Linked DNA regions of Homo sapiens: region 2 is linked to region 1. Evidence: fine-mapped expression QTL. A gene starts in region 1. The other region holds a variant in brackets. All regions are shown on one strand. Distances are from middle to middle. Region 1 holds the start of NAGPA (N-acetylglucosamine-1-phosphodiester alpha-N-acetylglucosaminidase). Region 2 has its middle 160 kb from the start of MIR8065.

Region 1 (2,910 bases):
AGTCCCTCATACACACAAGCCCCCCTGAGCCTCTGAGCCTTTGTGCGTGGGGTTCCTTTGGACTGAAACGCTCTTCCTCCAGTTCTGACCTTGGCTCACTTAGTGATTCATCTTCAAGTTCCCACTCAAAGGTCACCTCGGAGAGGCGTGTTCCAGATCACCCTCCCTAAAATCAACACTATTTACAACGGGTTCACCCCGTTGGTTGCTTTGCTGCACACACAGCAATCAGAATGTATGTTAGCTATTTACCCGGCTTTTGTTGATTTTTCTAGTAATGGGGGAGGGCTGTTAAGGCAAAGACTGTGTTGTTCACGGCTATCTCACCGGGGCGCGGCACATTGCCTGATACAAGCAAGTGCTCAATGATACTGGATGATGAATAAACTCTGCAAGGAAGCGATTCCTATCCCCATTCTGCAGAGGAGGAAACAGGGGCTCAGCTTGGTTAAGTGACTTGAACACGGAGGCACGGCTACAACCCAAATCTCAGGCCCTCTGCCCTCGACAGCACGGGGCTCCCTGCCTCCTCACCCGGTGACCAGGGTCCCGTCGCGGCGGATCCCGAACTGCGCGTTCTGCAGCCCCCCGGAGCTGCTCACCCGCCGCTCGTCGCTCACCACGTTCCCCAGGCACTCGCCCGAGTTCATGCGGAAGAAGCCGCCGTTCTGGGCGACACGGCAGTCGGCCGCCCGCGCCGTCTCCTCCACGGTGGCGCGTCGTCTCGCCGCGCAGCCGCCGGGTCCACCGGGCTCCAGCACCGAGAAGGTGCGCAGGGGCTCAACGGCCCGCGTCAGGTGGCCGGCCACCGCGCGGTCCCTGAAGTGCGACACGAAGGTGCGCACGGCCAGACCGCCGGCGCCGGGAGTCGCGGGAGGCGGAGGCCAACTCTCGTGCTCGCGGTTGCCGGCGCGCACCCGTGTGCAGTCCCGGGGGAGGCGCGCGCGCGCGCGTGGATAGGGCAGTAGCAAGTCGTCGTCGCGGGAGGCCCTGCGGGGACGGGCGGCCGTGAGCTCAGGGGGCTGTCCTCGTGAGCTCGGAGGACAGGGGGGACCCCCCGAACCAGGCTGGCCCAGGGAGCTGCACTCACCCCGAGTCGAGGCCGCCGGACGCTTCCCAGAGGAAGCCGAATAGTGCAAGCCGGAGGAGAAGCCAGCGACCCGTGGAGGTCGCCATATTGGACCGGGGCCTCGGGTCATGTGGGCTCGCCTCACGTGACTCAAGTCCCAGGGTGGCCGCTTTCAGCTCGGACTGAATTACCTGCGCTCTTTTCGGCTGGCGGGCTGGCGGGCGGTGCTGGTGATGTTAACTTTTTATCTCCAGGTAATCTCAAACCTACAGGAAGTTGCAAGGAGAGCATAAAGAACTCTCGTAGAACTGTTATTCATGTTTAGCAGTGGTTTAGGCTTGCCTGATTTACTCAATCATTTGTACTTTGTTTTTTTTTTTTCCTGAACCAATGGCAACCAAATTGCAGATGTCATGATCCTTTACCCCATACCTCGCCATGAATCTCCTAAGAACAAGGGCATTTTCTTAACCACAGGGCAAATATCATTAGGACAACTCCCATTGACATTTCTGTGATGTCATCCACAGCTAACCTTCAATTGTCCCTCTAATGTCTTTTTTTTTCTTTTCCTTTTTGTCCGCCCCTGACCCTGTAACCCAGGAGTTGCTTTTAGTTGTCATGTCTCTTTGATCTCTTCATCTGGAAGGCTCCTCAGCCTTTTGTCTTTTACTACCTTGACATTTTTGAAGACAGCCCAGCTACATGATTTGTGTGACTCAATGCAAAATGAAAACGTGGGGACACTTACTAAAAAACCCAGAAAACTATTAAGAATTTCAAGATGGTCAGAGCAAATGGTTGCAGCAAGCCAGGGACCTTCTGAGTGAGCCCATGAAGCTGGCCCTGAGTATAGAAGCCAGTTTATTTTGTAGCATGTACTTCAAGCTTCCTTTGAGAGGATTCTTCTCTTCAGGCCTCCTGTCCCAGTGCAGTGTCCAGGGTTGGGTGGTGTCTTGGTGCCAGTGCAGTGCGTGGGCCATTCCAGGAGCCACGGCAAGTCTAATTGGCTTGATACTGTTGCGGTCTTGCCAGTGCACCTTAATATAGCAGTTTCTCCTTGTCTGAACTAGTCCCGGGGTTCTTTGTCCTACCTCCAAGAAAACTAAGGAGCGTGGACACAAGGGTGGGGTTGGAGCGAACGTTTAATAAGGGAAAGAAGAAAGCTCTCCAAAGTGGAGACGGGAGTCCGAGTGGATTGTCGGGTTACAGCTGAATGCAAAAAGCTTTTTTTTTTTTTTTTTTTAAGACAGAGTTTTGCTCTTGTCACCCAGGCTGGAGTGCAATGGTGCGATCTTGGCTCACTGCAACCTCAACAACCTCTGCCTCCTGGGTTCAAATGATTCTCCTGCCTCAGCCTCCCGAGTAGCTGGGATTACAGGCACACGTCACTGCGCCCTGCTAATTTTTGTATTTTGGGTAGAGACGAAATTTTACCATGTTGGCCAGGCTGGTTTCAAACTCCTGACCTCAGGTGATCCGCCTCCTTCCGCCTCCCAAAGTGCTGGGATTACAGGCGTGAGCCACTGTGCCTGGCCGCAAAAAACTTTTATAGGACACTGCTCTCCTCCTGGTAACTGAGTAACTTCTTACCAGTAAAACTGCCTGTGCAGCTCCCCTTATGTTATGCAGCTGTGGGTATGTCTCTAGGCAAGTGCAAATCGCTGCTTCTCTTGTTTGTGTAACTGTGGGTTTGTTTTAGATAAGGCCCCCTCCTCCCTGTGCCGGTTTCCATGGAGCCCACTGTGTATATGCCTGAAAAGGAGAGGAAACTTTTTCCCGGGAGCCTGCTAATTATGCAAAGAACAAAGGGCTTCTGCGCTGGACCCTGTCTGCTTATC
Region 2 (2,910 bases), 760 kb after region 1:
GTGTGTGTGTGTGCATGCATGCATGTGTGTATGTGCATGTGCATGTGTGTGTGAGTGTGCATTGCATGCGTGCATGTGCAAGTGTTCATTTGCACATACTCACAAATGTACTGGGAGACTGGAATCCAGCACGTTCTCCCTGATCCTCACATTATAAACCTGTGTGATCTTGGGTGAGCCATTTAAGCTCTCTGTGCTTCATTTTTTGGGAGAGTTAATATGTAAAATCATGAAACTGCAAGGTGTTGGACAAACCTCTTAACTGATCTGAACTTCACTTTTTTGCATTTCTGTGGTCATTTGTGGTTAAGGGAATGAGCATTTGGAGCCTCGACCTTGACATTTAATTCCAGTACATCTGTGGTGTTGGGCATATGATTTAATCTCTTGGGGCTTTTTCTTTATCCGTAAAGTGAGCACAGTAACAATCTCTAAGTCATGGGGTTATACTGAGCATTGCATGGAAACGTACAGAAAACACTTACAAAATGGTCCTTCTTCCCCTTTCTTTTTCCTTCTCTTCCTCCTCTTTGTTTCCCTCCTTCACCTTCCCTTCCATCTTCACCTTCACCTCCTTTTTTTCCTCATCCTTTACTAATTCCTCGTCCTCTTCCATCATTATTATCATCATTGCCTTCATCTCATTATGAGGCCAAATTCAATTATGTACCTGAAAGCACTGTGTGATCTATAAAATATTACAAACACCAAAATGTCTGTGATACCAGAGGCACACTCACCTTATGTGAAACTCAATGCCAGCGTGCGTGTGTGTGTGTGTGTGTGGTGTGTGCAGCCTTTCAGATTTGCTCATTGGAGAGGTATAGCTGTCGGGCAGGTCAGATGTTGTGTGTCAAGGCATGTGGTGAGCAAAATGAGTTTGCCTGTGGATGGGGGATGCAGCTGGAGGAGTCGGGCGGCCCAGCAGGAGGGGAGCCAAGAAGAACACCTTAATGATGGCTTAAGAAACTTACAAATAAAGCTGAGGTTCCTAATGTTTAATTTCAAGTGACTGAACATTAACATTTAATTAACTCCTGACTGCTAAACCAATATTAAATCTAGGCAGAGGCTAGTGGCATCTCTTATGTATTAGCCGCCAAGAGGCTGCAATCCTACTATGGCGACATTCGGCAAGATGGAAGCTACCCCATCACATGGGAT[C/A]CCAGTCTACACACTGTCTGTGGAATTCCCCAGGCACACACCCACTCTCATCTCACTGGGTCTTGAGAAGGAGTCACATTCAAGCCAACATGCCTTGGCTCAAAATCTAACTTTTCTTCTCCCCAGTTGTATGACTTTGGCCAAGCTGCTTAAATTATTCCATCTCAGTTTCTCATGTGGAGAATGGGAAAAGAAATACCTACCTTATTATATTGTTTCTGTAGATCAGTAGCGATGGATCTGAAACACCTCACGAAAGGCCTAACCCATAAATGTCAAGAAATGATTCTACGTCAGTTTCATATCCCCCCTCTCCCTATTACTATGCCCAGTGACACTTGGTTCCTGTTAAGGACCAAGATCTGTTCCACCTTATTGTCTTCCACTTCTTCCTTCTTCTTTTTTTTTTTCTTGAAACAAGGTCTTACTCTGTTACCCTGGCTGGAGTGCAGTGGCGAGATCATGGCTCATTGCTGTGTCAATCTTCTGGGCTCAAGTGATCCTCCTGCCTCAGCCTCCCGAGTAGTGGGACCACAGGCACCTACCACCGTGCGTGGCTAAATTTTTAATTTTTTGTGGAGATGGGGTATTGCTATGGTTGTGAATTCCTGGGCTCAAACAATCCTCCTGCCTTGGCCTCCCAAAGTGCTAGGATTACAGACATGAACCACTGTGCCTAGCCTGGTCTTCAATATGTTGTTTCCTTGACCTGGAATTCTTTCCCCTCCTTACCCCTGACCACTCTTCTTCCAAATCCTAACTCAAATATCATTTCTTCAAGAAGCCTTCTCTGGCCTCCTAAATAGATCCATTTCCCCCATTATATACATTCATATATCCCTCCTAACTTTTGACTTTAGACCTGGAAGATAAACAATCCCATTCTCCCCTTCTGTTTACATTCATTGGGGAAGGATTTGCTTTTTTTCACTGATTTGCAAAGCCATTAGAGCCTCACAGTCTCTGTTGCATTTTCTAATGACTTAGTTCTTTTGTTTGCTCTACTGGAGATAGGTCGACAACACTCACCAGTTGCATCAATAGTCCCCACCTTTTCAAAGACTTTGGCAGTACAGTTGGGTTTTCCCATTTGCATAGGGCTGTGCAATGCATTGTAGATTTCCATAGCAGTTGAATCTAGTGCATTTTCAGCTTGTAGATTGGGGGAAGGGAGGACTTCTGTCACTTTGTGAAGGCATGGTTGAATTTTGGTGAGCTGTTTTGGAAGGTCATAAGCAGCTCAAGACTGGGCTCAGGAATAGTAAAACCCTGATGTCAAGTGGATCCACCCACTTCTGAGGCTGGGTTCTGAAATGCACAGATCTGGATCTGGAAGGAAGTGGATGTGGCCCACATGGGTGAAATCTGGAGCATGGAAGAAGGAAACATGTTATGGGAAAGAGGCAGTTTTTGCCAAGCTATGGCCACGAGCAAGGAATCAGGAATGAGTTGCTCAATCCAGGATCTGGACCAAATATATCCACAGTGATCAAGTATCCAGGGTTTGTGATATGATCAGTGGCCTCAAAAGCATCACATGGGGTCAGAGAGAGGAACAGGAGTGGTGGTGGCATCATAGATGACATTTCCAAGATGGGATGGAATGAGCTGGATCCCAGGGATGAAGCAGGGCTGTATCAGATGGTGTCTCCACACCCTGATGATGATGATGATGGTGACAGCAATAGCAGCAGACCTTTCATGAGCACTAATTAGGCTCCACTTACGGTGCTGACTGTTTACTTG

Evidence for each region. PIP is the estimated chance that this variant, and not a neighbour inherited with it, causes the effect.
Region 2: its variant is fine-mapped to the expression of NAGPA in monocytes after LPS (Fairfax 2014, PIP 0.95).

Annotation. Positions count from the first base shown.
Region 1 is chr16:5,032,739-5,035,648 of GRCh38, forward strand. NAGPA (N-acetylglucosamine-1-phosphodiester alpha-N-acetylglucosaminidase) reads right to left here and starts at 1,197. Exons shown (of 10, transcript NM_016256.4): 1 at 1,091-1,197; 2 at 535-990. The coding sequence starts at 1,176. It overlaps NAGPA-AS1 (NAGPA antisense RNA 1), which reads left to right and starts at 964. Exons shown (of 2, transcript NR_038913.1): 1 at 964-1,323. RefSeq lists enhancers at 434-935, 1,129-1,308.
Region 2 is chr16:5,793,745-5,796,654 of GRCh38, forward strand. It overlaps a transcript of RBFOX1 not described here. Among named protein-coding and RNA genes, the nearest start is that of MIR8065, 160 kb to the left of the region's middle. RefSeq lists an enhancer at 1,918-2,445. The variant C/A (reference allele first, on the strand shown) is at 1,165.